4 linked regions of the Homo sapiens genome follow. The protein of the gene in region 1 interacts with the protein of each later gene in a biochemical or structural test. Each region holds a gene or a part of one and is shown in the gene's direction. Other genes may lie near its edges.

Evidence for each region.
Region 2: the proteins of LRPPRC (region 1) and MAP1S form a complex in vitro, tested with the Homo sapiens proteins (one study listed by BioGRID).
Region 3: the proteins of LRPPRC (region 1) and FOXO1 form a complex in vitro, tested with the Homo sapiens proteins (one study listed by BioGRID).
Region 4: the proteins of LRPPRC (region 1) and IPO8 form a complex in vitro, tested with the Homo sapiens proteins (one study listed by BioGRID and IntAct).

The regions. Positions count from the first base shown.
Region 1 is NC_000002.12:43,992,979-44,000,486, reverse strand, and holds the start of LRPPRC (leucine-rich PPR motif-containing protein, mitochondrial precursor), read left to right. Parts: upstream 1-4,497; 5' UTR 4,498-4,539; coding exon 4,540-4,688; coding exon of another isoform or gene 4,689-4,713; intron 4,714-7,508. UniProt on the Homo sapiens protein: May play a role in RNA metabolism in both nuclei and mitochondria. In the nucleus binds to HNRPA1-associated poly(A) mRNAs and is part of nmRNP complexes at late stages of mRNA maturation which are possibly associated with nuclear mRNA export.
Region 2 is NC_000019.10:17,714,644-17,722,486, forward strand, and holds the start of MAP1S (microtubule-associated protein 1S), read left to right. Parts: upstream 1-4,836; 5' UTR 4,837-4,859; coding exon 4,860-4,977; intron 4,978-5,512; exon of another isoform or gene 5,513-5,747; coding exon of another isoform or gene 5,748-5,787; intron 5,788-6,292; coding exon 6,293-6,394; intron 6,395-7,843. UniProt on the Homo sapiens protein: Microtubule-associated protein that mediates aggregation of mitochondria resulting in cell death and genomic destruction (MAGD). Plays a role in anchoring the microtubule organizing center to the centrosomes. Binds to DNA. Plays a role in apoptosis.
Region 3 is NC_000013.11:40,663,626-40,671,532, reverse strand, and holds the start of FOXO1 (forkhead box protein O1), read left to right. Parts: upstream 1-4,891; 5' UTR 4,892-5,320; coding exon 5,321-5,950; intron 5,951-7,907. UniProt on the Homo sapiens protein: Transcription factor that is the main target of insulin signaling and regulates metabolic homeostasis in response to oxidative stress.
Region 4 is NC_000012.12:30,629,865-30,636,882, reverse strand, and holds part of IPO8 (importin-8), read left to right. Parts: intron 1-2,596; coding exon 2,597-2,800; intron 2,801-4,871; coding exon 4,872-4,988; intron 4,989-5,925; coding exon 5,926-6,023; 3' UTR 6,024-7,018. UniProt on the Homo sapiens protein: Involved in nuclear protein import, either by acting as autonomous nuclear transport receptor or as an adapter-like protein in association with the importin-beta subunit KPNB1.

The DNA.
Region 1 (7,508 bases):
TTCACCATGTTGACCAAGCTGGTCTCAAACTCCCGAGCTCAAGTGATCCTTCCGCCTCGACCTCCCAGAGTGCTGGGATTATAGGTGTGAGCCACTGTGCCCGGCCTTTTATTCTTTGGGGAAGTATATTAAAGACAATTCCAGGCTGGGCACAGTGACTCAACGCCTGTAATCCCAGCACTTTGGGAGGCCGAGGCGGGTGGATCACGAGGTCAGGAGCTCAAAACCGACCTGGCCAAAATGGTGAAACCTCGTCTCTACTAAAATACAAAAATTGGAAGGAATGGTGGCGGGTGCGTATAATCCCAGCTACTCGGGAGGCTGAGGCAGGGAATTGCTTGGACCCGGGAGGCGGAGGTTGCGGTGAGCAGAGATGGCGCCACTGCACTCCAGCTTGGGCAACAGAGCAAGACTTCGCCTCATTAAAAAAAAAAAAAAAAAGAAAAAAGACAATTCCAGACATCATGTTAATTTACTTCTACATATTCCAGTGCCAACATGCATCTCTAAACATATTTTTTCTTACGTAACCACAAAGCCATTATCATGCCTTAGAAAATTAGCAATAATTGGCTGGGCGCGGTGGCTCATGCCTGTAATCCCAGCAATTTGGGAGGCCAAGGCGGGCAGATCACCTGAGGTCGGGAGTTCGAGACCAGACTGGCCAACATGGTGAAACCCTGTCTCTGCTAAAAATACAAAAATTAGCCAGGCATAGTGGTGCGTGTTTGTAGTTCCGGCTACTTGGGAGGCTGAGGCAGGAGAATTGCTTGAACCTAGGAGGCGTAAGTTGCAGTGAGCTGAGATCACGCCACTGCACTCCAGCCTGGTCGACAGAGTAAGACTCATTCTCAACAAACAAACAAACAACAAATTCTATGGTCAATGTTGCATGCTCATTGTATTGGAACTAACAGTAGCATTGTATGTGATTGATAATTCCTTCCTGGAAGGACTTCTTTCATTCAGGTATTTGTGACCTCACTGGGCTCAGTTCTCCTGCCTCTCTGGCTCTTCTTTCTCAGTTTCCTTTGCTAGATTTTCATCTATACATCCTCTAAAGATTGAAATGACACAAGCCTCAGTCCTTGGACTCCCTCTCTTGTCTATCTGCATTTTCTTCCTAGATGCTTTCATCTATTTCTGTGGCTTCAAATATTAGGTACAAGCTGCAGATTCCCAAATGTATCTTTAGCTCTGACTTTTCCCCTGAACTGACTTGTATGTCATATAGCCAACCCCTATTCAAATTTGACGCTTGGATGTCTAGCAGGCACAAGCTTAATATTCTAGAAGATCATTTTTGATTTCACTTTTTAAATCTGCTTCTCTTTGTTTTCTCCTTTTAAATCAGAGTCATCTCCATCTTTCTAGTTGTTTAGGCCAAAACCTTTGGAGCCGTTCTTGACTTACAATCCACAGCCAATCCATCAGTAAATCCCCTTGGTTCTACTATTTAAATAGAGTAAGAACCTGACCCTTTCTCATCATTTCACCTGCTGCCCTCTAATCCAAGCCACTAGCATCTCTATTCTGGATTAGCCTTCTCTTTGGTCTATTTTTATTTATCCCCATTCCCCTAAAATCTCCTTTCCAAACAGCAGATAGAGTGACCCTTTCAAAATGCAAATGGGTGGCTGGGTGCCGTGGCTCACGCCTATAATCCCGGCACTTAGGGAGGCTGAGGTGGGTAAATCACTTGAGGCCAGGAGTTAGAGACCAGCTTAGCCAAAATGGTGAAACCCCATCTCTACTAAAAATACAAAATTAACTGGGTGTGGTGGTTCATGCGTGTAATCTTAGCTACTTGGGAGGCTAAGGCATGAGAATCGCGTGGACCCGGGGAGGCAGAGGTTGCTGTGAGCCTAGATTGTGCCACTGCACTTAAAAAAAAAAAAAAAAAGCAAAAGGGTGTGGTGGCATGCACCTGTAGTCCCACTTCCTTGGGAGGCCAGGGTAGGAGGATTGCTTGAGCCCAGGAGTTCAAGGCTGTAGTGTGTCATAATTGCACCTGTGAATAGACACTGCACTCTAGCCTGGGCAACACAGCAAGACTCCATCTCTTTAAAAGCAACACACCAAACTATCCAATGGTTTCTCATCTCATTCTAAGTAAAAGTCTTCAGTCTAAATAAAAGTCAGTCTTCACGGCCACCTACAACACCCTGTTTGATATGGCCTCCAACTACCTCTCTGACCTCCAGGCCCCTCTCCACCCCCTGCTCCTTCCTCTACTCCTACCCCCTGCTCTCTACCCCCTGCTCTTTTCTCTCATCCACACAGTCCTCCTCCTTAAAGTTCTCTGAATAGGCTACACCTATTATTGCCTCTGGGTTTTGGTGTTTGCTGTTCTCTAAGCCTTAACCACTCTTTTTTTTTTTCTCCTTCCAGAAAATTCTCCTGGCTTCCTCCTTTCCTTCCTTCAGGTTTCTGTTCAACGTTTTTCCTATTTAAAATATCAACTCTCCGGGCGTCGTGGCTCATGTCTGTAATCCCAGCACTTTGGGAGACGAGGCAGGCAGATTGCTTGAGGCCATGAGTTTGAGACCAGCCTGGGCAACACGGCAAAAACCCGTATCTACTAAAAATACAAAAATTAGCCAGGGCTTGGGCCTGTAATCCCGGCTACTCAGGAGGCTGAGGTGGGAGGATCGCTTGAGCCCAGACGTCGAGGCTGCAGTGAGCCAAGATCGTGCCATTGCTCTCCAGCCTGGGTGACAGAGCAAGACCCTGTCTTGAGAAAAAAAAAAAAAAAGCAACTCCCCCCATGACACCCTCAATCCCTTTACCCTGGCGTATTTTGCATCACAGTTCTTTTTGTCTTCCCAAATTAAACTTTAAAGAGCTTAATTAGAATCTAGGGTTGGTTTGTTTTGTTCTCTGCTGTATTCCTAGGATTTCAAATAGTGTATGGCACTGGATATGTATTCAATAAATACGTGTTGAATAGGTGAATAACTTGTATTCCCAGTGCTCAGTAATATAACCCAGAGTCAATCAATTCACCTTGTTTCTTTTGGGGGCTTGGAGCGGGTGTCTTCGTTCCCTCATCTCTCAAAGGAGAGGTGAGCTAGGTCATCTCAAAATAGACATTAATTTAACACATATTTAATGAGACCTACTGTGTGTCTGGCACTGGGTAGGTGTATGGCCTACAATAAGAGATCACAGTCCCTACTGATAAGGAGTTCGTGGGATTAACTGATAAGGAGTCCAGTGGGATAAACAGTCACTTCGGAAATGACCGTGGGAGGGCTTCCAGAGGAAATACCCGCCGCGTTTGCCTCGTGATAGGTAGGGGACAGGCAGGTGTAGAGGGAGTGGAAGGCTGTTCTCAGCTTCCCACGTGTGCACAGGGAACCGATCCAGTCTGTAAGCCCTGTGAAGGCAGCGACGTGGTTTTTTTGTTTTGTTTTAGACAGAGTCTCGCTGTGTCACCCAGGCTGGAGTGCAATGGCGCCATCTTGGCTCACTGCAACCTCCACCTCTCGGGTTCAAGCAATTCTCCTGCCTCAGCCTCCCGAGTAGCTGAGATTACAGGCGCCCGCCACCACGCCCGGCTAATTTTTTGTATTTTTAGTACAGATGGGGTTTCACCATGTTGGCCAGGCTGGTCTCCAACTCCTGACCTCAGGTGATCCACCCGCCTCGGCCTTCCAAAGTGATGGGATTACAGGCGTGAGCCACTTCGCCAGCGATGGGTTTAACTTGCCAGTTTTCTCCCCATATTTGGCTGGAGACTCTTAATTACATTGTTCTTTTACTTCTCACATGTATATGTGCATTTACTGAAGGGAGAGGCGCGGTAGGGGTGGAGGGTTGGGGAAGAGAGTCAGTTCAATTCCAGCTTTAAAACTATAGGATTTTTGGTAGAATTCATTTATTTTCTAAAGCGAGGCCCCGCGTACGCGCTTAGGGTGGGGACCTGCGCGTTCCTTTACACTGTTCCCAGGCCCTGATAATCCACATCCTATCATGTTGAACCTGGGAGGCAAACGGCAAGGTGCAAAAGACCTCCACGGTTTCTCCGGCCCGCGTTTCTGAGAGTGAAGGGCCGTTCCTATTGGACATGGCGTCAGGGCTGAACGTTAGCAGCAACATCTGCACTCGGGGGCGGGGGAAACCTTCCCACGTCCTGGGATCTTCATAGTCGGCTCTCCTCGAGAGTTCTCGGTATTTTTACTAGTTGGCCTCCCACAAGCCTCTGCGCCAACCTGGGAGGAGTTGACCTCTTGCGGCTCTACCAACAGAGGAGTGCAGGGGTGCAGCGAATGAACACGATGCCCAGATCGGAGACGGAAGACGGAAAAGAAAAGCTTCGATAATGAATCAAGCAACATCGTTTATGTAAATATTACATTGGGTCTTCTGTCCTCGGAGAAGTGCGGTTTTCCATCTTCCAACCTAAAACAATCCGTCGCTCCCCCCACATTTGGCACGCCCGGCAGTTGGTCTCTGCCGCGCCAGGCTACCCTGCGGTCACATGCTCCTCCTGTCCTTCTGGCGGAGCGTGCTTCCCGCTGCGGGGACGTTCGAGCAATGGCAGCCCTGCTGAGATCCGCGCGTTGGTTGCTGCGTGCCGGGGCGGCCCCGCGCCTCCCGCTCTCCCTGCGCCTCCTCCCTGGCGGCCCGGGCCGGCTGCATGCCGCCTCCTATCTGCCCGCCGCTCGCGCCGGGCCCGTGGCCGGGTGAGTGCCCAGGCCCTTTCTCCAGGCAAGCTGCGGCGCCAGGGTCCCCCGGGGTCGTGGGTGCCGGCAGGGACCGGGTCCTGCCTGTGCTCGCCACCCTTCTCCCCGCCCCAGGACCTAGCCTCCCCGGGCTCCGCACCACGCTCCCTACCAGGGGTTTTCGGGTGACAGGGTTAAGCGCCTTCAGAAGGTCACGGCTGTGGGCATGGCCTGCCTCCGGCTTGAATCCTGCCCCCGCCACTTCAGCCTGGACCTTACTGCCCTCGGGGTACCCATGGTCAACGAAGATGAGGGGGGCTTTGAAGACTGCTTTGGGAAGTCGGGTGGTGGTCTTTTCCTTACACTTGGCCAGCTTGGGTGGTGTCCCACGTGCGGTCACCGTTGGTGATCAGTAACCACCTAGCATTTAGATATTGGAAATTTAGCTTTTTGCGAGGGATGGGGCGGCGAGGAGTGGGTTGGGAGTTTGGGTGAGCCACGGATGACTTAAAGCTGGACGCTGGATTATGATCACTTTGGGCTTTTGCCTGCGTTCTCTTGAATGGAGTTTTCCTTCAGCATTTAAGAAGGTGTTGCGCGAGTTGGGCTGGAGTGCAGTGGCGCGATCTCAGCTCACTGCAACTTCCGCTTCCCGGGTTCAAGCGATTCTCCTGCCTCAGCCTCCCGAGTAGCTGGGATTACAGGTGTGCGCCACCATGCCAGGCTAACTTTTGTACTTTTAGTAGAGACTGGGTTTCACCATGTTGGCCACGCTAGTCTCGAACTCCTGACTTCAAGCGATCCTCCTGCCTCGGCCTCCCAAAGTGCTGGGATTACAGGTGTGAGCCACCGCTCCCGTCCTGTAAGTGTCTTTGAATGAATGAGCACATGCAAGGCACTCTGTTGGAATCTGGGGATGCAAAGGCAAGTTAAACTCTAAGTGGGTGTCAGATAGGCGAATAAATGCTCTCATGGTTTGAGGTTTATCAGAGATAGGTTTGGTATAGACTTTTGTAGTGGAGGGGAAAAGAAAAGTTGGTGAAAGTGTTCATTTGGTTATTAATAGTATTCTGACCACCAGAGAAGGGGAGATAGGTGCTGAGCTTTTAGCATTGGAGAAAAAATGATTTTGAAAGACTGATGCTTGTAAATTAAGGTACTTTGAGAGCTCGCGTAAGGACTGAGAGCCAGGGATCTGCAGTAGGCTGGGCCCAGACTGCAGCCTACTCCAGATTTATCTGCATTTTATCCTCAAATTATCTGCATTATGCCATTAGAGAAGTTACTTAACATCTCCAGGCCTCAGCTTCCTTAGCTATAAGGTGGGAGTAGTAGTAGTGTTAGGAATATTGCAGAATTATCTGTATTAAGCACTTAGTATAGGGCCTGATGCCTAGTAAGTGCTTTGTTGGTTACTACAGGAGTCATAATATCTACGGTTATGCGGACCTTCATGGACCAGCCTGAACACCTAATCTCGCCATAAAATTACGTGGAGGAAATAATTTATGATTTCTTAACAACTTAGTTATAATCTTTGGAATGGAGCGTACTTGTAATTTGGAGTCTGCCTATATTTTCTTATTGGGCTTGAACAGTTAACTTTCCGAAATCATGCCTCTGAGCACAGAACTATATACATCTCTTGGCTTTCAGAGTTTCTTTTGAGAAAGTTGTGCCCATTACTCTTATTTTTCTAATCCTCAGCATTTCTGTGAGGCCAGGGGAAGGTCCACATTTTCTTTTATCTTCACTGTTGCATTTGAGGAGAACTGAATAAAGAGAGAACATAGTTTAGTAGAAAGGGTGGTCTCGGTGTTCATCAGACCTGGGTTCTGTTTACTTACTGCGTAATCTCAGCCATCTTACTAACCTGTCTGTTCCTCAGTTTCATTATCTGTAAAGGCCTTTCCCCCTTATCTTTGTAAAGTTGCTTTCTTATCATTCAGATCTCAAATGTCTCTTCAGGGAAGCCTTACCTCAACACTCAATCCAAAACATGCCGGTCCCACTGTAGATTTATTCGTGGCACACCTCACTTGTCTGATATCATTACTTATTTCTCTGGTTTTTTTTTTTTTCTTTAGTAGAAGGTAAGCTATATGAGAGCAGGACTTTGTCTTGTTCACCACTGTGTGTTCAGGTGACAGCAGGCAATAAAGAAGTGATTGTTCCCTCTTTTTCCTGGACTCTGAGCACTGTATATAGTCTCCTACCCGACATCCTGTAAGCATGCCCAGATCTTGCCCACGTGAAACACAGAACCTTTCCTGGAACTCTGTTTACTCTAGAAGTTTCTCAGTCTCTTCCCTGTCCATACTTCTCTGTCCCTTTAATTTCATCACTTTTCATTCACTTTCCTATCCACTGCAGTCACACCGCTGTCAAAGGCCATTATTATCTTATTGATTTTTTTATTGTATTTTTGAAAAATTATTTCAAAAGTGCCTTGAAGAACAGTTGCAAAAATTATTCCTTAAGGTGCCTCGAGGGACAGTTGCAAAACCTGGGTGGTGGGAACAATAAACTAAAAATCACCCTTAATTATGTCAACCAGAGAGCCATTCATTGATAGCTGTCCTTCTAATGACTTATGTATGTGTAAGATGTATGTTTATTTAACTTTTTGAAAGGACCTCTTTTAATTACCAAATCCACTTTTTAGGCCTTGACCTGGCATATTACTCTGTCTTCCATTTTCCCCTTCATGAGACACTTTTCTTGGTATTGATGACACCATTTTTCTAGGTTCTCTTCTCTTTAGGATTTGTCTCATTTGCTTGATTCCTCTTGCTTCTGTTCACCTATTAAATGCTGATGTTCTTGGTAGTTTTACTCGTG
Region 2 (7,843 bases), on another chromosome or scaffold:
ATAATAGGGAGTTACTGCTGTTGAGGATAGCATTTATTTTCTTTTTTTTTTTTCAATTTTTATTTAAAAAATTATAGGCTAGGCACAGTGGCTCACACCTGTAATCCCAGCACTTTGGGAGGCTGAGGTGGGTGGATCACCTGAGATCAGGAGTTCAAGACCAGCCTGGCCAACATGGCGAAACCCTGTCTCTACTAAAAATAAAAAAAATAGCCAGGCGTGGTGGTGCATGTCTGTAATCCCAGCTACTCAGGAGGCTGAGGCAGGAGAATTGCTTGCACCTGGGAGGCAGAGGTTACAGTGAGCTGAGATGGTGCCACTGCACTGCAGCCTGGGTGACAAAGCAAGACTCCTTCTCAAAAAAAAAAAAAAAAAAAATTCCGAATAGAGCGATAGGGTTTCCTTATGCTGTCCAGCCTGGTCTTGAATTCCTGGGCTCAATGGATCTTCCTGCCTCTGCCTCCCAAAGTGCTGGGATTACAGGCATGAGCCACCATGCCCGCCCTAGGACAGAGTTTCTTTTTAAGAGGATGAAAGTATTCCGGAACTAGATATTAGCGAGGGTGGCAGGACGTTGTAAATGCACTAAATGTCACTGATTTGTACACTGTAAAATGGTTAAAATGGAGGCCGGGTGCAGTGGCTCATGCCTGTAATCCCAGCACTTTGGGAGTCTGAGGCAGGTGGATCACCTGAGCTCAGGAGTTTGAGACCAGCCTGGGCAATACGGCAAAATCCCATCTCTACAAAACATACAAAAATTAGCCAGCAGAGGTGGCCTGCACCTGTTGTCCCAGCTAGTCAGGAGGCTGAGGTGGGAGGACTGCTTGAGCCCTGGAGGCAGAGGTTGTAGTGAGCTGAGATTGTGCCACTGCACTCCAGCCTGGGTAACCTGACCCTGTAATCCCAGCACTTTGGGAGGTCAAGGTGGATCTCTTAAGCCTAGGAGTTTGAGAGCATCCTGGGCAACAAGGAGATGCCATCTCTACAAAATATACAAAACATTAGCCAGGCATGGCGGCGCACACCCGTAGTCCCAGATACTTGGGAGGCTGAGGTGGGAGGATCTCTTGAGCCCTGAAGGTCAAGGTTGCAGTGAGCTGAGATCAAGCCAGTGCACCTCAGCCTGGGTGATAGAATGAGACCCTGTCTTAAAAAAAAAAAAAAAAAAAAAGGCCGGGCACGGTGGCTCATGCCTGTAATCCCAGCACTTTGGGAGGCCAAGGCTGGCCTGACACCGGGAGTTCAAGACCAGCCTGGCCAACATGGTGAAATCCCGTCTCTACTAAAAACACAAAACTTCCTGGGCATGGTGGCAGGTGCCTGTAATCTCAGCTACTTGGGAGGTTGGAGCAGGATAATCACTTGAACCTGGGAGGCAGAGGTTGTAGTGAGTCGAGATCACACCACTGTAGATAGAGAGAGAGAGAGAGAGAGAGAGACTCATTCTGTCAAGCAGGCTGGGTTGGAGTGCAGTGGCGTGATCTCAGCTCGCTGCAATCTCCACAGCCCAGACTCAAGTGATCCTCCCACCTCAGCCTCCTGAATAGCCCACAACCACACCTGGCTAATTTTTGTATTTTTAGTAGAGACGGAGTTTCACCATGTTGGCCGGGCTGGTCTCAAACTCCTGACCTCAAGTGATCCGCCTGTCTCAGCCTCCCAAAATATTGGGATTACAGGTGTGAGCTACTACACCCAGCCTGACCATGTCTATATTAAACCTCAACAAAACTGTTAAAATAAGAAAATAATTGCCAGGAGAAGATGAGAATATCCAGCAGTCCTGAGGGCTCAGGGTTCCGTTTTCCCCACAAATGCCATCATCTGACGCCTCTGGGGATGGTGACCTTGAAACAGTCATGGAGCTGGGCCAGAAACCAGAGACCAGAGTCCCATGCCTGGGATTTGAGCAGTGGTCTCAGAGGCTTCTCAGTTTCTAGGGAAATGCACCCCACATGTCCCACACCAGAGTCCTCAAGCTTGGGAAATGCTTTGGGACAGGAAGACCTCATGGCTCCAAGTACTCAGGACATTATCTCCCAAAAACCTAATGGGGGAGACCTTCATCCCCAAATCAGATCCCCCTAGTGGAGACATTTCTTCAGGCCCTGTAAGACCAACTAGTAATAGAATTAATACCAACAGGCCGGTGCAGTGGCCCATACCTATAATCTCAGCACTTTGGGAGGCCAAGTGGGGCAGATTACTTGAAGTCAGGAGTTCGAGACCATCCTGGCCAACATGGTGAAACCCCATGTCTCTACTAAAAATACAAAAATTAGCCAGGCATGGTGGTGGGTACCGTAATCCCAGCTACTCAGGAGGCTGAGGCAGGAGAATCCCTTGAACCCGGGAGGCGGAGCTTGCAGTGAGCCGAGGTTACACCACTGTGCTCCAACCTAGCCTGCTTGACAGAACAAGACTCTCTCTCTCTCTCTCAGAATGATTCTGGCAAGGGCGACAGAGTGAGAATCCGTCTCAAAAAAAAAAAAAAGAAAGAAAAAAAAGAATTAGTACCAACAATCATAATTCACAGCGTGGGCAGAAGGAAGTGGATAGACTTCCATTCAGAAGCTCCTGGGTTCGAATCCTGGACCCATCCATAAATACACAAGGAAGGAAGGAAGGAAGGAATAGTGGACAAATAGGCCTTTCAGCCCATTCCAAAAGACTTTATCATATCCCTTCTCAGATGCCCAAGCCTTGTGTTGCACAAGGCCAGGGCCCCAGAGAGGCCTCAGGCTTCCAAAAGTTTCCAGCCTTATAGGGGAGATAGTGCCCGACACAGACACTCCCACTACTATTACTGCTCACAGCAATAACAGAAGAAATCACAGGCAGGCGAGACACAGGGAAGGGAGCCAAGGGGGAGGGACAAGGATAGAGGAAGGATGCCAGAACCAAAAAGAGAGAGAGGAAGTGGAGTGCAAGAATGGTAGACGGCACGTGGCCAGTGGCTGTTACACACTGGCCAGGGAGGAAGTTGGGCTGAACAACCTAGATAATAAACGGCAGCGGGAGGCTGATTCGCCTTCCCAGATCTTTCCCATTTCTGTTCTGCTTTTCTTTGCATACTCCCGGAGACAGGGAGCTCACTCCTGAGAAAGGAGGTTCAATGTTTCCTGGGCATGGACCACTGTCCAGAAGTTCCAAGCAAGATGATTTGTCAAGTAGTAGCCCCTATGGGTCAAAGGGCTAAAGGGGGCCAGGCGCGGCGGCTCACGCCTGTAATCCCAGCACTTTGGGAGGCCAAGGCAGGAGGATCACTTGAGGTCAGGAGTTCGAGACCAGCCTGGCCAACATGGTGAAACCCCATCTCTGCCGGGCACGGTGGCTCACGCCTGTAATCCCAGCACTTTGGGAGGCCGAGGCAGGCAGATCACGAGGTCAGGAGATCGAGACCACGGTGAAACCCCGTCTCTACTGAAAATACAAAAAATTAGCTGGGCACAGTGGCGGGCGCCTGTAGTCCCAGCTACTCGGGAGGCTGAGGCAGGAGAATGGCATGAACCTGGGAGGTGGAGCTTGCAGTGAGCCGAGATCGCGCCACTACCCTTCAGCCTGGGCGACAGAGCGAGACTCTGTCTCTAAAAGAAAAGAAAAGAAAAGAAAAGAAAAGAAAAGAAAAGAAAAGAAAAGAAAAGAAACCTCATCTCTACTAAAATACAAAAATTAGCAGGGCATGGTGGCGGACACCTATAATCCCGCTACTTGGGAGGCTGAGGCAAGGGAATCGCTTGAACCCGGGAGGCAGAGGTTGCAGTGAGCTGAGATTGTGCCATTGCACTCCAGCCTGGGCGGCAGAATGAGACTCCATCTCAAGAAAAGGAAAGGAGAGGAGAGGAGAGGGGAGAGGAGGGGAGGGGAGGGGAGGGAGAGGAAGGGAGGGGAGGGGAGGAGAGGAGAGGAGAGGGGAGAGAAGGGGAGGGGAGGGGAGAAGAGGAGAGGAGGGGAGGGGAGGAGAGGAGAAGAGAGGGGAGGAAAGGAAAGAAAAGCCTAAAGAGGATTATCTGGGGAGAGAGAGGTACCCATGTGCGCAACGCAGGCAGTCCCTTGCACAGGCTGGATCTAGAGTAAGACCCACTTGGGTTCAAACCTGCTCTACCACTTACAGGCCTGGTGACTTCATCCCTCCAAATCTCAGTTTCCTCTTCTTTCCTCTGAAAGTGACCACAGTAACTGTGCCTACTCATCTGTGCCTACATACAAGCACAAAACTCATCGCTTTGTGCTTGTATGTAATGAGCTAATGCAATAAAATACCTGGCGCACAGGAGGTGCAGAATAAGTGTTGCCCTGTTCCAGGCAGGCCCAGAGTGCTCCGGTTGTGTCCCAAACACACATGTACTTTCTTACCTCTAAAACTTTGCACCTGCTGTAAACTTCTGCCTCACCAGCTCTTGCCCCACCACCCACAAGGCAAACTCCTACACATCCCTTAAAGCCCTACCTACAAGATAGATTTCTTTTCTCTGTTCAAGCCCTGACCTAGAGAGCTGGGAGCATCCATAGGCACCGGGTTCTGATGCGGCCTACTGTCATGTGATGTGAGTTCCTGGAGGGCAGGAGTTCTGACCTACATGCAGCAGGCACGCAATCAAAGCTTGTTCAATGAAAAAAAAAATGAATGAATGGTCACTTGGGAGAGGCGGCTCCCAAGCGGACACCCAGGAGTCGGCCAACCCCTTTAACGCCCGCATCCCCTGCTCTCCACGACCTCAAAGGGCCTGTAAGTGGTCGACAAAAAGGGGCGGGGATGCGGTGGTTCCGGGCGGGGTCTTCAGCCCTTCCGGTGCGGCCCCTTTAAGAGGCGGGGCCTGCGGGGCGGGCGCCGAGAACGCCGGGGCGGCCCGAAGATGGCGGCGGTGGCTGGATCTGGGGCTGCCGCGGCTCCGAGCTCACTGCTCCTCGTGGTGGGCAGCGAGTTCGGGAGCCCGGGGCTCCTCACCTACGTCCTGGAGGAGCTCGAAAGAGGTCGGGCTGGCCTGGGGGCCCGCGGGAGCCCGGGAGGCGGGCCCGTTCGCGCGTCTGGGCCCGGGGCCGGCGGGGTGGGGCGGCGGCGGCGGCGGCGGCGGGACCCGGGCTCCGGGGCGGGGGTCGCGGGCCTGGGGCTGGGTCCCCTTCACCGTTAGGCGCACGACGCGGGCAAAGGCGGGGTGCCCGTGGGTGCCCGCGGAGAAAGTGGCATCCGGGCCTGGGCTGGGCAGGGCTGCCCCGCCCCAACTCCGGGTGAAGATAGGGGAGGGGACACGGGCCTGGGCTTGGGGACCCTTGCAGTTGGACCACGGCTCCGCTTCCCGCCTGACTGGCCTGCCCGGGGGTAGGGCCTGGGGTCGCTTTGGATCTCCAGGTCTTAGCAGCTTAGATAGAGATCTCCCGGAGGGAGAAGCAGATATGGGGGAGGCTGGGCCTGGAGCCCCGGGGCCCGCTTTCTGTTGCCTCACAAGGAGCTGCTAATTGGGGTGTGGGCGGGTGCGGCCTGCCCTGGGGATTTGGCACCTAGGGAGGTGAGTCATAGGCGCACCTGCCAGGTTCACCTGCAGCCACTTGGCTCAGTGGGACTGGCGGGCGTGATGCGCCCGTGGGTGGAGATGGGTGTTCATCCCCCATCCCTCGGAGCATCTGGACCTGGCGTTTCATTGCATGTAAAATGGGACAGGAACACGCACCTCGGTTCATGTGCTTGAGGAGTGTTTAGTGAGCACCTGCTATGCGCCAGGCCTTTGGGCAGTGGACACAGGGATATGGCCGGGATGATAGACAGGTTCAGCCCTGCCAACACAGGTCTGGTTTGGGGATGGACCCAAAGCGAGTGAGGAGATGGAACAAGCTTCCAGCTCACATGGTGTCAGGAAGGATGAGAAGGCTGCAAGGGACTGAGAGGACAGTCAGTCTTAGCACCCGAAGGTGCTGAGGGGGAAGGGCCCCCTGGCCAGTAGGAACAGGTGGGGGCGGCAGGGGGATGGACTTCCAGGCAGGGGAAACAGCTGTTGCAAGGGCGGTGAGTGGAAACGGGTCTGGCAGGGCATAGGAGCAGCGAGGAGGTGGAGATGGAGGAGGTGGAGGCTTTGTTGCTGATGAATCTTGTGTGTAAAATGATGAGGTGTGCTCTGGGTCCCCTGGCTCAGCTGCAGCGAGACCTGAAGGTGTTGGGTACTTCTGAGTCTCCAAGCTGTGAGTGAAGGGAGGAGGCTGGGGCGCTCCCCACCCACGGGGTGCTAATTATTGAAATATTCTGGGAGCTGGGGGGCCCGGCTGAACTCCCGCCTTGATCCCTCCTTCCCACCAGGCATCCGGTCTTGGGATGTCGATCCTGGCGTCTGCAACCTTGATGAACAGCTCAAGGTCTTTGTGTCCCGACACTCTGCCACCTTCTCCAGCATTGTGAAAGGTGAGGCTGGGGTCCCCCTGACTGCTCCCTACCTCTTGTTATTTGGGGAAGTGCCAGCCGTGTGCCAGGCATGGGGGGTGGGATGCAGCTATAAATAACAACAGTAATAATACAGTTGAGACCTTTCAAATGCAAGCCGTGACCCAGTGATAACCCCCTCAGTCCTCAGCAACCCACAGTGCAGGAACTGGTGTTTTTGTCCCTGATTGACAGATGAGGAAATTGGCATTGAAGGGGGAAGAGGCAGGGAGATCTCTGAGGAGGGGGTTTTTTGATGAGAAACTGCTATGACTGGTGTGTCCAGTGGAAGGGAAGGGCCCCAGTCAAGACCCAGCAGTGGACAGAACATCTAGAATGAACCGGGCGCGGTGGCTTACGCCTCTGATCTCAGCACTTTGGGAGGCCGCAGCGGGCGGATCACTTGAGGTCAGGAGTTGGAGACTAGCCTGGCCAACGTGGAGGAACCCTGTCTCTACTAAGAATACAAAAATAACGGCATGGTGGCAGGCGCCTCTAATCCCAGCTACTCGGGAGGCTGAGGTGGGAGGATCACATGAACCCAGGAGGCAGAGGTTACAGTGGGGCTGAGACTGCGCCACTGCACTCCTGCCTGAGTGACAGAGTGGGAGGGACTCTGTCTCAGAACAAACAAACAAACAAAAAACATCTGGAAGGTGGAGGGGCACTGAGCAGGCCCTGGAAGATGGAGTGTGGGCCCCTTGCAGGAAGGGACTGATACTGGTTCACAGCCACAGGCCTGGGTATACAGTAGGCAGGGAACTGAAAAGGAGTGAGATCAAGAAGGGCCCAACTCAGCACGAGGCTCCCTTCTAGGGTGACCCAGGGTGAGCAGAGCAGCAGGCGGGCAGGCAGGGCTTGGGTGTTGCCTGCAGCCGCCCCCGGCTCCTGATGGTCTCTTGAGTCACCTCCCGGCTGCTGCTGGAGAGGAAGGAAGTGTCTGTAGTCTCATTGTCCCAGTTGGTCCTTGTGGCTTCCTGACACTTCATGGGGCAGAAAGTGGAGCTGGAAATCCTGTCTGCTGTGTGTGAACTTCGTGGCCACTTCCCTTCTTTATGCCTTGATTTCCCCACCTGAATGGGGCAATATCCCTGTGTGGCAAAAAGCGTGCTAAGGCTGGGTGGGGTGGCTCTCGCCTGTAATCCCAACACTTTGGGAGGTCAAAGTGGGAGGATTTTTTGAGGTCAGGAGTTCAAAACCAGCTGGGGCAACATGGTGAAACCCTGTCCCTACTGAAAATGCAAAAATGAGCTGGACCTGGTGGTGCACACCTGTAGTCCCAGCTACTCAGGAGCCCGAGGAGGGAGGATCGCTTTTACCCAGGAGGCAGAGGCTGCAGTGAGCTAAGATTGTGCCACTGCACTTCAGCCTGGGCAACAGAGCGAGACCCTGTCTCAAAAAAATAAACTTAGGCCTGACATGGTGGCTCAC
Region 3 (7,907 bases), on another chromosome or scaffold:
ATCTACAAATATGTGTTAGTATTCCTGCAGAGACCCACAAGTAGTCTCTCACTAATACCTAAAGTGAAGGAATAGTTTATTGAAGTTGACAAACACTGGCCCTTCACAACAGAATTGACAAAAGAAGTGGTTCACTGCTTCCCTTCTGTTACAGGTTAGTAGACAGATAACCAGAGGTAGTCTCCGTCTTTTGTCCATTTGTAATAAGATCATCCCAACCATGAGGCTTAGTGGTCGGAACTCATACTCCCAGTGCCTGTGGATGGTGCATTTTTAAATCTTTTCCACTTCATATCATTATTTTCCTCCAAAATGGTGACTATATTTCAATTTTTCCAGCCTTAGCATTTCTTTTACCTATCAAAAACATTTTTGTGTAATTCCTCCAAATAAATATTGTCACTATGCATTGCTGATTAGAAAAGAACAGCGTTCTTAACTCTGATAGCAAATATCGTATCAGGGAAAATAAACCATTTTGGAGCTCAAGGAATTTAGCATCAAAACAATGGACTCTAAGATGCACAGCACCTGACATATATGTAGGAGGTGCTCTGTAGATATTTGTGGAATTAGTGACAAAACCCCAAGGAAATTATCCCTTAAGAGAAACGAATGGTTACTTCTAATCTTACTACAGCTACCAGTTAATATGCCAGCCTTCAGGACATTGGTTTAAAGACCTGAGGCTATATATATTTTTTTCAGATTATTACTTTCTATGGGCTAAGTGAAGAAAGGCTGTTTCAGGTTGACAGCAGTACCTCCTAATAATTCAGACAAAGTTTTGGAAACGGACAGTTGTTGGGGAAAGGGAATGTGAAATACGAAGTGAAGTGCCCTGACTGAAAAATCAGCATCCAAGTTTTTCACTTACTCATTAAATGGAACTTAAATTATCTATTTTGACAAGTAAAAATTTAAATTTAAACCCGAGATCTATCATGTGTTGGTGAGGGGTAAATGTAGAAATTTCTGCCTGGGCATTGATCAAAGGGAACCATCCCTCAGTCTTCCTGTTAAGGATGAGGCAATAGTTACCCTGAAAACCAGGCACAGAAAAGAACATCACATAGTTTTGTGAGATGGACTTTGTAAGGATAAATTTCCTTTTTCATTTTAATTGTCCTTACTTGACATGAGACATTTTTCTTCCCTATTTCTTCCCAGTTCAGACACATGCAGCAACTAAGTGATAATCAGTAGAAAATACCTTCAAAGCAAGCTGCAACCACAAAACACAAGGAAGGAGAAAAGAACTTTTTCCCTTAAGCAGAACCAGGGATGACCTAAATACTATGTCACCCTTCAGAGATGGCAACATTTACATTTTTGACTAAAAAAAAAACAAAAAAAAAAAACAGAAAAACTTCTTTTGTAATCTCTTCTTTCATTATCTTATTACCACTATCATTGTTTTATGTCTGTTTTCTTGATCTTTTATTTTATTTTATTTTTTTTTAATTTTTAAATTTTTTTGAGATACAGTCTCATTCTGTCGCCTAGGCTGGAGCAGTGGTGTGATCTCGACTCACTGAAACCTCCACCTCCGGGGTACAAGGGATTCTTCTGCCTCAGCCTCCTGAGTAGCTGGGATTACAGGCACCTGCTACCACGCCCAGCTAATTTTTGTATTTTTAGTAGAGATGGGGTTTCACCATGTTGGCCAGGCTGGTCTGGAACTCCTGACCCCAGGTGATCCACCTGCCTCGGCCTCCCAAGCTGTTGGAGTTACAGGCATGAGCCACTGTGCCCGGCCTATTTGTTCTTTTAATTCAAACCTTTATTTGGTTCAGTGGAGTTCACCTAACTATGATTACTAAGATCTGCGGGTTGACTGGAAGGAAATACACTACGAAGTTATAATGGTTATTGCTATAGTGGGATTACAGGATATTTATAATTTTCCATCTGTGTTTTGAGAAGGTTACTAATGGGAAAGCAAAAAATTAGAGCTACAGCCCTGGCATCACCACTTTTATTATGTGCGCTGGGGCAAATCAGCATCTCTGCACCTCTCTTTTTCTAAGTTAAAGGGGGTCACCAAGGTGATCTCCGAGTTTACTTTCAAGTTTAACGTTCTGTGGGTCTAATGGAAAAGACAGTTTAGCTTGATATAACCCTTGTGGAGCACAATTTGGCTGTGCCTTTCAAAACTACGAATGGGTATACCTGCTGACCCAGTGACTCCCATTTCTGGAAATTGCTCCTATATATATACTTGTACAGATATGAAATTAAAGTTATGCAAGGTTATTTCTTTTTTTTTTTTCTTTTGAGACGGAGTCTCGCTCTGTTGCTCAGGCTGGAGTGCAGTGGGGCGATCTTGGCTCCGCTTCCCGGGTTCACGCCATTCTCCTGCCTCAGCCTCCTGAGTAGCTGGGACTACAGGCGACCGCCACCACGCCCGGCTAATTTTTTGTATTTTTAGTAGAGACGGGTTTCACCGTGTTAGCCAGGATGGTCTCTATCTCCTGACCTCATGATCCGCCCGCCTCGGCCTCCCTGCAAGGTTATTTCTTACAGAATAGTCTATGATAGCTAAAGACTGGAAACAAGTGAAATATTCACCAACATCCTGGGGTTCAGTAAATTGATATTTAGATACAACAGTGTGGTGGTTAGCTGTAAAAACCCTTCAATATATATTTTTAATTTTTTGGACCTATGTGTCAGGGACATTGGTGTTATAGGTTCTCTGTGCCTGCCTCGTCAATTTTTTTAAAGAAAGACCAAATAAAAGTAAACTATGACATTTGAAGAAACAATTGGGCAGGAGAGCCTCAAAGATTTCAAGGATTTGGGGAAAGTCTGTAGGAAGACTCCTTTAACCAAATAAATATTCTCTGACGCCCTGAAAAACCGGAATAGAAATGAAGGCAAGGCCAAATTTGAAGCTGGCTTCCTTTGCCAAGAATGATCCAGTAGGGCACCGCCTATTTTTAGGGTGCGGCTGTCTGGATCGGGGGCTGCTTCTGCAGAGTGTAATTGGAAAGGTGGGGGGAAGCAACAGCTGTACTTTGGGGGCCTGCCTTTGAGCTCATCATCTGAGTTACTGAGGTCCCCTAGCGGCTGTCAGAGGAGGCCCAGACTGTCCAAATTTGATAGTAAACGTGAAGAGACCACAAGACCAGGGTGGGAACCAGTCCCCGCCCGTCCCCAATCCATCCGGCTCACGCTCCCCACCCCACCCATGCCTAGTATCAGCAAGAAGCTGTTGTGATAAATAGATTATGAAGAAACAGGAGCCCGGACTAGAGAGACGATAGTGAGAATATAAAAGAAGAAAGATAATCTCTCTCAATCTTTTTAACTTTTGTAAGAGGCCTAATTTTTCCTTTTTTCCCCTCTTTTCTCTTTTATTTTTTCAACAACCTCTTGTCCAACTGACTAATTTTCTCTAGATGCCACTTTTTCCATTGCAGAATTACTTGTAAGAAAGAAAGGGATTAAAAAACAAGAGTTGGAAGCTGTCCTTTTGGACAAGATATTTAAAACCCTACTGTCCATCTTCCATCCTAAGTGGTCCCATCTTTCTAAAAGGAAATGCCTTCCATATTCTTCCTAAAAAAGCAAAAGCATAACAAAACAAAACTGGAAAACTGTTTCTTCTGCTTGAGACACAAGGGCCATTATCTTCCCACCTTTGGCCCCACTGATCCTTGACAGGATGTCCTGGACCTGCAGCCCAGATGAGGAAAGGTGGGGTGTGGGTGGGGGGTTGACTGACACACACAGCAAGTAGCCTCAAGGAATTTGGGGGTGGGGCAGGCTGCGCCCCAAGGCTTTGGTCCTATCTCCCGCCCCCCTTGCGTTTTTACTTAACACCCGATCACTTCCGTTGCAAATAAAAAAGAAGTAACAAACAGCTAAATTTAATTAGGGATAAGTAATAAAATGACCTGGTTCTCTCTAACTGCGCTCCTGAGCCCTTCGCTGCCGGCCCTGGACTTAGTGGACGGAGCGGGAGATTCCCGCCCAGGGGAAGAGGTTCCCACGGAGGGCATGCGGTCGCGGGTGCCTTTGGATTCGTGTGTTCAGGGAGGCCAGATAATCTCCTCCCCGCGCCGGAGCCCCTGTTCCTCATTTCTAGCATTTTAAAAAAGGTCAAGAATACAGTGAATCCGGCTGGGGGCTGCCGGCTGGGTGACGCGCCTCTGGCTAGACCGAATGGCACAGGCTGAGCCCGGGGGTGCGGACCGGTGGGCACGGAGAAGGGTCCCTCGGCGCGGACTCGACTGCAGGAGCCGCGGCGCCGGGGGTGGGGGGCGTGTGCCGCTCGCGAGGGGGCCGGAGGACTTGACAGATCGCAGCGAAAGAAAACATTAAACCAAAACAAAACCCACCGATTCCCCACGTCGTTCAGCAAAGACATCGTGGGTGGAGCCAGGAGGGAGCGATTGAGTAGAATTCCTCGCGGCCGCCTCCGCCCGCCCACCCCGCGCCCCCGGCCCTCGGCCCCCTGCCCTGCCAGCCCGCCGGGCTCGGCCCGCAGCGGAGGTCAGGGAGCAGCGAGCGCCTCCTCCCACCCGGGCTTCCCGAGTACTCGGCTCTGCTGCTCCGTAGTAAACAAAGTGTCGCCGGCGCCTCCACGCTGGTTTGCTTCCTAGCAATCAAAACACTGAGAAGGCGAGAGAATCACAGAAACACTCGAGAATTACCAGAAAATAATAGAGATCCAAAAAAAAAAAAAGGAGGTGAGTGTGTGAAAGAGAAAAACACCCCACTACCCCCCACCAGCCCACCGCCGCCTCCCCGTGGAAAACCGGGCCCCACCCAGCCCGGCGCCCACTGGCTGCCCGGGCGGCGGTGCCGCATGCCCATTGGCCGCGCGGGCTGTCGGTCAGGGGCGGGCCGGCGCGCGCGCCGCCGCGGGCGGGGGGCGGCGGCAGATCCCGTAAGTCGGGCGGCCTGGTAGTCGCAGCAGCCGCTGCCGCAGCCGCCACATTCAACAGGCAGCAGCGCAGCGGGCGCGCCGCTGGGGAGAGCAAGCGGCCCGCGGCGTCCGTCCGTCCTTCCGTCCGCGGCCCTGTCAGCTGGAGCGCGGCGCAGGCTCTGCCCCGGCCCGGCGGCTCTGGCCGGCCGTCCAGTCCGTGCGGCGGACCCCGAGGAGCCTCGATGTGGATGGCCCCGCGAAGTTAAGTTCTGGGCTCGCGCTTCCACTCCGCCGCGCCTTCCTCCCAGTTTCCGTCCGCTCGCCGCACCGGCTTCGTTCCCCCAAATCTCGGACCGTCCCTTCGCGCCCCCTCCCCGTCCGCCCCCAGTGCTGCGTTCTCCCCCTCTTGGCTCTCCTGCGGCTGGGGGAGGGGCGGGGGTCACCATGGCCGAGGCGCCTCAGGTGGTGGAGATCGACCCGGACTTCGAGCCGCTGCCCCGGCCGCGCTCGTGCACCTGGCCGCTGCCCAGGCCGGAGTTTAGCCAGTCCAACTCGGCCACCTCCAGCCCGGCGCCGTCGGGCAGCGCGGCTGCCAACCCCGACGCCGCGGCGGGCCTGCCCTCGGCCTCGGCTGCCGCTGTCAGCGCCGACTTCATGAGCAACCTGAGCTTGCTGGAGGAGAGCGAGGACTTCCCGCAGGCGCCCGGCTCCGTGGCGGCGGCGGTGGCGGCGGCGGCCGCCGCGGCCGCCACCGGGGGGCTGTGCGGGGACTTCCAGGGCCCGGAGGCGGGCTGCCTGCACCCAGCGCCACCGCAGCCCCCGCCGCCCGGGCCGCTGTCGCAGCACCCGCCGGTGCCCCCCGCCGCCGCTGGGCCGCTCGCGGGGCAGCCGCGCAAGAGCAGCTCGTCCCGCCGCAACGCGTGGGGCAACCTGTCCTACGCCGACCTCATCACCAAGGCCATCGAGAGCTCGGCGGAGAAGCGGCTCACGCTGTCGCAGATCTACGAGTGGATGGTCAAGAGCGTGCCCTACTTCAAGGATAAGGGTGACAGCAACAGCTCGGCGGGCTGGAAGGTGAGTGGACTCGGCGCGCGGCCGGACCTTGGGGGCGCGGTGGGTCAGGCGAGGGCGCAGCTGTGCAGGTTTGCTCGGCCTGAAGGTGCGGAGCAGGAGGGCAGCGCGTTCCCAGGAGGGCGGGCGAGAAGCGGTGGTCGCGGTGGCCTCGCCCGGGTCCGGTCGGGGACGGCAGTAGGTGTGCGTGCGCGCCAGTCAGGAGTTCGCGTGGGACGCGGTAAGGGGCTCGTTGGGGAACTAAGTAAAGAAAGTGCGCCAAGAAGTGGACGTCAGAGCGAGGCCGAAAAGTTTGCCAGTGAAAGGAGAAAGGGGTTCGCTGGGAGCGGCAACCCCCGGCCCGCGCCGACTGCTTCGGCTGCCCCTTCCCTCCCGGACCTCCGCGGGGGGAGGGCGGGTTCTCTCCGGCCGCGCCGCGGAGCTGTTTCCGCCGGGCGCGGCGGGGGAGGGCGCGGCGAGGGGCCCCGGAGCCTCGCTGCCCCGGGACCGGGCTGCAGGTGGAGGGGACAGGCAGGGCGCGACCGGCCGGGGACGGTGCAGGGCCTGCCGGGCAGTTTCTGGAGGCGGTGCGCATTTTGCTTTGTTTTGGTTTTCTCCGGAGTGGCCTCGAGTGCCGGGGGCCCGGCGTCCCGAGCCCGAGGTGGTGCCTCCGACACGTGCGAAGGGGCGGCCACCGCCTGCGGAGCGCCGGCGCCTGGCCGCGCGGGGCGAGCTAAAGTTCAAGTGTGACCCTCGGCGGGGGCGGGCGCGGGCGGTGGCGGTGGCGGTGGCGGTGGCGTGGGAGGGGCCCCGGGCGCAGGAAGCCCGCGCCTTTAAAGGGCCAGCGCGTCGGGGCCGGGCGCCGTGGGGCCAGCGTTTCTCCATGCGGGGAAGCGCCCGAACTTGGTCTTGCCCCTGGTAGGAGGCTTTTAGTTAGAAACACAGAGGCTGCCCTGAGGGGCCGGGGGCTGGGATGTGTGAGTCTTTTCCTGCCTTGCCACCCTATTCTTGAGCATGGAGGACCAGGCGGGGGGGCTTTGCGACCAATGTTTTGAGGGAGTCGGAGTGGCGGTGCGCGTCGAGGGAGCGGTGCCTTGAAGGAGGATTTTTGCCATTTTTGCCTTTCAGAGCGTGGCCAGGAGAGACTTAGCGTGGGGGCAGGCACTTCCCGACTCCGAGGAGAAGGCCCGGGGGCCCTCGGCTCCGGGGAGGCTTCCCGGGGGCGGGGTCCAGTCGTGGCGCGGCCTCCCCAAGCTGACAGTTTCTCACTGTCACCGGTGGCGGAATTGCTGTAAAGGCTGTCTAGTTGAGCTAAACACCTCCCTCCCCTCCTCCGAGACGGAGTCTCGCTCTGTCGCCAGGCTGGAGTACCGTGGCGCGATCTCGGCTCACTGCAACCTCCGACTCTCTGGTTCAAGCGATTCTCCTGTCTCAGCCTCCCGAGTAGCTGGGATTACAGGCACGAGCCACCACGTCGAGCTAATTTTTGTGTTTTTAGTAGAGACCGGGTTTCACCATGTTGGCCAGGATGTTCTGGATCTCCTGACCTCGTGATCGGCCCGCCTCGGCCTCCCAAAGTGCTGGGATTACAGGCGTGAGCCACCGTTCCCGGCCGAGCTAAACACCTTTTTAAAACATACCTTTCTTCGCCTCTCATATTGGACTCCACGGCATAATAAAGATTGGTCTTTGCTGCGCAGTTGTTAACACCAAGGTTATTTTACACACAGTGTCATCCCTGTGGTTAATGCGTGTCAAAAGGGTTAAGTTACTCACACCTTATTGAAGTTCCTTTAGAAGGAATTCAAGATTCATTTTATTTTTTCCAAAGTGTGTTTTAGAGTAAAGGTATCACTTATCGCTTCATTACCAGGCATTACATGCAATTTTACCAAGTGTTTCAAAAAAGTAAAGTGCCTTCTTACCGTTAAGTTCAGCATATATTCTATTAAGTCACAAAATCGAAATTGTCTGCCAAATC
Region 4 (7,018 bases), on another chromosome or scaffold:
ATTCTTCGGCCTGCTACACATATAACAAATATTTTGGGCTTGGTTGACTTGCTATTAATTGTATCATGCTATATAAATTTAGATTTATGCACCTTCTGACACCTAATATACTCAGCGGTTTTTTTTATGGAGCCTAATAGATGCTGTTACACATTAGGAAACACATTTATAACAATCAAATGGTCTTGACTGTAAGTTAGCAATCTAGTATCTAACTTTCTTGTTTGTGCTAACAGCCTCATCAAGGCAGTAGCCATGAGTTAAATGAATCATTACATTAAGAGCTGAAGTGTTAGTACCACAGATTAGTAGAGAGTGTCTTTTTTTTCTTTTTCTGGAATGGTTCTTAGGTGACTCATTAGCAAAAATTACATTTGAGAGACGTCCATATTTGTGATTTAAATATAAATTAAGGTAAAGTACATAAATGAAGTGGATATACTTGAGAATCAGAATAAGATTGTTAGAGTTGAATATTAGACCTTTGTTTTGTTTAATGATGAGATTGCGGAGCTACTTGCTAGAGACTAGGAAGTAGCATTCTCCTATTCCAGGTGGATTTTTTCCTCTCCTGGTTAAAAACAGATACTTTGTTAGCTGAGAAAAATCAGAACTCTTCCTGGTAAACATACAGCTCTATTTTTGATGCTAAATTCTGTGATTTTAGCATGGATAGATTTAAAACACTTTTAACTGGCATCATCCCAGTTTGTTCATATACCAGAGATTATAAACTACCCTTTTTCTCCCCTCCACAGCACAAAATACAGCTTCTAATTTGTTTTTCTGAAATCTGTGTAGGTCTTTTGAAGAAATGCTTCTTTATTAGAAGTGTTGCATGTGTGATTTTTGTTTTGTTTTGTTTTGTTTTTAGCTAACTGTGTGTCAACAGTTGTAGAATTCTTTTATTTTTTCCAGTATGTTATGATCTCTAATTTCTTGTTTTGGCAACTCTTTATTGGCTTATACTGTATGGCTTGAGGGAAAATTTTCTGGTAATATCCCACACTTTCTTGTACTTCCTACTAAAGTATGGAATGATTAACTAGTGGAGGTATTTCTCAGTCTTTTTGTATTAATAGTTATAATTTGCCATGCATTTTTTCGTGTATTTGGTCCAAACTCTGGTTAAGTGCCTTATTCCTAAAACTACCTAGTTCAATCTACCTGCTTCAATATGGTGTGTCTAATAGAACTAGTTTTAGGTTAATATTACCTGGTTTGGGTTTACTCCAGGATTTCTCTCTTATCTTGATTTTTGTTCTGCATTTACTGCCTTCCTGTTCCAGTATTTCAGTTACAATCTAACTGCTAGGAACAGATTGACACTGAAAATAGATACAGAATCCATGGTGATACATAATGTAGTTCAAGTTTTTAACTTTTCAAGCGACATGTAGCTATTTTTCTTTACATTTTTGCTATTTCTTTTTATTATAAATTAGCAAATTATATATTTATGGAGTACAAAGTGATGTTATGATTTGTGAATATAATGCGGAATGATTAAATCAAACTAATATATCCATCACCTTAAATACCCTTTTTAATGGTGGGAACATTTGAAATTTACAATCTTGCCAATTTTGAAATGTACATATACTATTAACTGTATTCACCATGCTGTACAATAGATACCAAAACAAAACAAAACAAAACAAAAACCTAATTCTTCCTGAGACTTTGTACCCTTTTACCAACATTCCCATATTCCCACCACCTCTAGCCTCTGGTAACCACCATTCTATTCTCTACTTCTATGAGTTTGATTGTTTTAGATTCTATGTATAAGTGAGAACAGGCAGTATGTGTCTTTCTGTGCCTGGCTTATTTCACTTATCATAATGTCCAAGTTCATCAGTGTTGTTGGAATTGACAGAATTACCTTTTTAAAAGCTGAATAGTGTTTCATTTTAAAGAATCCACATTTTCTTTATTCATCCGTTGTTGATGGACACTTAGGTTGATTCTGTAACTTGGCTATTGTGAATAATGCTGCGATGAACACAGGGCTGCTGACATCTGTTCTACGTATTGATTTAAAATATTTTAGATATATATCCTGAAGTGGGATGGCTGGATCTGTATTTTTACTGTTTCTACTAGCAGAAATGATCTCATTTGGGCATTTCTAAGCACTTTATAATCAACTCAGTTAATTAAGAGGACTGAATTCTCAATAGGAAGTCATTGTTTAAAACACATGCACTGACCGTACAGTCACTTTTTTTTTAAACAAAGGTAATTTTGAAATCTGCAATTGAATAATATTCTTGTATTAATGAACTTGCATAGCCTAACAGTAGTAATGTTCATCTGGATAACAGGTTTAGGGAACTTGTTTTCAGTGAGGAGGATAAGGACATTCTCAACTTAGCAAACTCTACAGTAAAGATAAGGTTTATTTATTTTATTTTTTATTTTTATTTTTTGACTCTCCTCTTTAGACCAGGGATAAGATTTATTTTTATTAAAATTTTGTGGAAGATTTTTTCCTTTCCAGAGTGTAGTTTTATAGTCTTTGGTTTTTGTCGTGAAGTTTTATATTTTGTCCTTATGTGTTTTGATTCCTTTTAAATAATTAATGGGTTCACAGAGGAGATTTCAAGTGATGAAGAGGAGACAAATGTAACTGCTCAAGCAATGCAGTCAAATAATGGAAGAGGTGAAGATGAGGAGGAGGAAGATGATGACTGGGATGAAGAAGTATTGGAAGAAACCGCGCTTGAGGGGTTCAGTACTCCACTTGACCTTGACAATAGTGTGGATGAATATCAGTTTTTTACACAAGCTCTGATAAGTATGTCTTTACTTCCCCACATCTTCTGATATTTTTTTTTCTAAACTCTTTCTTCATTTCTTCCTGTTTTGATATTTGCCCAAGATTGGTCTAGGTTCTTTTAAAAATTTTTTTGTTTATTCCTTATGATAGAAATCCCCAAACATACATACATGAAATGATAGAAATTAAAATAATGAAACACCTATCACCCAATCCTAGCAGCTTTCATCATTGAGAAGTAGCAGGGTGAGCCTGTATGTTATCCTTGCAAAAGTAATATGTGGAGTATCTGTGTATATTGTTCATCCTTTAGGCATAAATGGGCAAGCATTTTTATAGCAAAGAATGAAGTGTTTCAGGCATACATTGCTTAAAAATTGTGGCTAACAACCTACTAGTTATTCACAATCCCTAGAATGAAATTGCTGCCGTAAGAGGGTGACTTTTTACTTTGTAAGTAATTTGCCAATTTTATACAACAAAGAACAGTATAATTACAGTTACAGGACTCATAAATGATTCGGGGGGAGAAAATATTTGCCACATATGCATAATAGGCATAATGTACACAGTGTACAGAGGCCATCCTCAGATACATAAGACCAGTAACCTAGTAGAAAATGGAAATGGAAAATTTACAGAATAAAAACAAGCCAATGAGGATATTTAGAAAATTATTAATCAAATAAATTATTTTAAATCTCATTAATATAGATTATTTGTTTTATGGTTAGATAGTATTTCCATAGTTACATTGTAATTTAGTTCCACTGTGGGACATTTAAGATTGTTTCCAATGTTTTTACCATTATGAGGGTTATTAAAATGAACATCCTTACATGTAAATGTTTTTACTAATAAGGCAATATTAGCTTAATATATTGGCATTTTTTAGTGTTGCTACAAATAACATTAATGAAGAAAAAACTACCTAGATGTTCTTATTGAAATTCAGAGGAATTGGAGGCAGAGAACACAGGAAACTATATTCCAAAGCATGGGAAACGTAACAGCATAAACGTGGAGATGGAAATATGGAGGATGTGGCCTAGTGTAGTTCCAGACATGGGTGTGTCATAATCACCAAGGAGGCTTTTAGGTCTTGAGTAGGATCTCAGGAGATGTATTTTTAAAGATGCTTCTCAAGTGACAAGCAACTTTAAACCAGCATGTAGGGGCCACTGCTTAAAGACTGTGAAGGAACGCAGTTGGGCTGGGCTATAGTGGCCTTGAATTCTGGACTGAGGTGGTCCATCCCATTGCCCATTGGAATAGCGTTGAAAGTTGTGTTCTGAGGCGGTGACCTTTTAGATGTGGTAATTCACTTCAGGGGAGTTACCCGGTGATGGATGATGTGCAGAAAAAACTGGAAAGGACTAGATGTGGGAGCCAAGTGTTAGAGGTTCACTTTATTAATTTAGATGTATAGAGACCTGGAATGGGGAGGGTGACATTTGATGGAAAGCAGCATACAGATGAAAGACATTAAGAAAGAAGCAGAGCTTTGGGTGTGGAGAGGGCATGCTCAGGGATGTTAAGGATGCACAGTAGTGGACTGGGAGACTAATAGAACTGGTGAGATAAATGGAGAGATAGAAGGTTTGGGAGGAAATTGTTAAATTTGGTTTTAGTTGTGTTGAGTTTGAGATGAGCTATTCAAATGGAACAGTCCAGGAGGCTTAGGGGAAGGTTTTTCCTAGAGGTACAGATTTGAATCCTTGGGGTGGTAGCAATACTAAAGCTGCAGGTAGTATGAAAATTCCAGAGGAAAATGGTAACAAGTGAGTACTGGTGTTCTGGATTTTAGAGAACATCCATAGAAGACAGCAAAGGAGACAGAGAACTAGGCAGACTAGAGATTTGCAATGTCCTAACCTTCCTTTGATTTCCCACATAGCTGGGTACTAAGTGGGTACTCAGAAATAATCCTTTGTTGGCGTAAGTTTCATTACCTTGTGTGTGTTGTAGTACTGTACTCTTTGTCTCTTACTGTCTGGGATAATTTCTTTGTAATTTGATCATGTTACTACTTGTTCTGTAAATTAATAGTCGCTGTACCCTCCTGTCTTTTCCTCCCAAAATGCAACAGCTGTGCAGAGTCGAGATGCAGCCTGGTACCAGCTGCTGATGGCACCACTCAGCGAGGATCAGAGGACAGCACTGCAGGAGGTGTACACACTGGCAGAGCACCGACGGACGGTGGCAGGTCAGCCAGAGTAACCTCCAGAGTGGAGTGCATGTGTCAGAGTGCCAACAGACAGCCTTATTTGATGAGCCAGGTGGCACCTAAACACTGTTTTTGAAATTGTTAGAGACTTACCCTTTAAGATAATAAGGAATTGTCATTATTGTATGATTGTTTTAATCACTCATGATGTCTTAGCTTTGCAAAAACCTGCACATTAATATGTATTTCCTAGTGGTGTTCTCATTCACATTCTTATCCTATGTTGGAGGCAAAGGTACAAAGTAAGGGTTGGGATAAGTCTTGCCGAGGGAGACTTAATCAGTTGGATCACTCCCCTAAACATTTCAACCGTGGGCCAAAGGGACTTGACGAATTCTTGCAAGGAGCTTGTATTCCTGGAAATGGAATGCTCTCTATTTCTCATTGTTGGGCTTTATTTGACATTGTTTCTTGTTGTTGATTTTCAGTTTTTAAGCTGGAGGAATTACTCTGTGTTGATTATTGTAGTTACTTGTAGATTGTCATTGGAAAAGATTTTGTAGTTACAAAAAAATTTTAGTAGGAAACATGGCAAACTAGACATCTAGAGTTTAGAATGCTGGCTCTTCTGCATGGACTTAGATTTTCAGTTCTGTGCAGATTCTCAGTCAGCCTTCCTGATATGAGAAGTCTGGGCCCCCTTTCAGCAGTAGAGACAGTGAAGTAGAATCCACCTCTGAGACGTGTTTTCTTTTCACTCGTTTTTTGCAGATTTTCCGATGGTAGTGAACATACCACCTTATTGACATAGGTCTGTTATTCTTAGTTATTCTTTGGCAGGATAACTAATACTACCAGTCACATTCTTTCACAGTTCTAAGCATATAAAGAATCTGGCTCCTTTGAGTCATCTCCAACTTTGTCACCTTAAGCATTCTTTTTTTTTCTTCTCCCCTTTTCTTTTGAAAAATGCTAGAGGCAAAGAAGAAGATTGAACAACAGGGAGGCTTCACCTTTGAAAACAAAGGAGTCCTCTCCGCATTTAATTTTGGGACTGTGCCCAGCAACAACTGAAGGAAAGAACATCAGCTGACCAAATGTCATCGCTGCATTTTATTTCACAAGAGGAGTGTGAGGGTCAAGGGGATGAAATGAGGGGCTGCTTTTAGGGCCCTCCTGCTGTGCCAGTTACCATCTGGCATTAGGCAGCACTTTTATCTACTCTTTCCCCTTTGACCTTTGTCACCCTGAAATATATATTTTAAACAGCTACTGTAAGTATGAAATGAAAGAAAAACAATCATTGGACGGAAAAGGACAACCCATATGTTCCAAAGGCTGAATGCCCAAGGTTGTTTTAGAGGATTGGATAGACTTGCACGTCTCAGGTTTTTGCCATGCAGAATCAATGGATTTATGCGGATAACAGTGCCTTCTGTTGTACATGAATTATCAGAAAAAAATTTTTGGAGTGCATTGCAATTTTTTTTAAAGCATAAAACATATTTCTAGATACAACATAAACCTTGGTTATATGTCAACTATTCTGCATTTTACTCTGTGAATTTATTGTTAGGCAGTTACTGCAAGTCACTCTGGTTTCAAAATCTTCACGGCTCCCTCTGCTCACCCTGCTGCTGGGGGGCTTTTTTCAGGGGTTGTATTATAAAATATGCACTGGCTGTGGTTTTTCATAAGATGTTTTGTGGCTTTTTAAAGAAGTGTCTTACTCCCTCTTCTCTCATTTTTTTCTGCCTTGAAAAGGGGTGGTATTTCTTTTGGGGTCAACAAATACACATATCAGTTTCACTCCTAACCTTGTAAGTTCAGGACTCATTTTCTTGGCAGCAAGTGGCAGGGGCTCTTTAGTCACTGGAGTTAACAGTAAGTCTGAGTATATTCTGAATAATGTAATTATGCAATTAATTGATAATCATACCTAAAGCACATTGAACTTCTAAGAGACAGGTGCTACGTAAGCACACTGTCTTTCTGGATGGGGACTTGTATTTTAAATAACTTATCATTCCAGCTATGTTGGACTAGGGTCCAAAGCATTTTATAATATT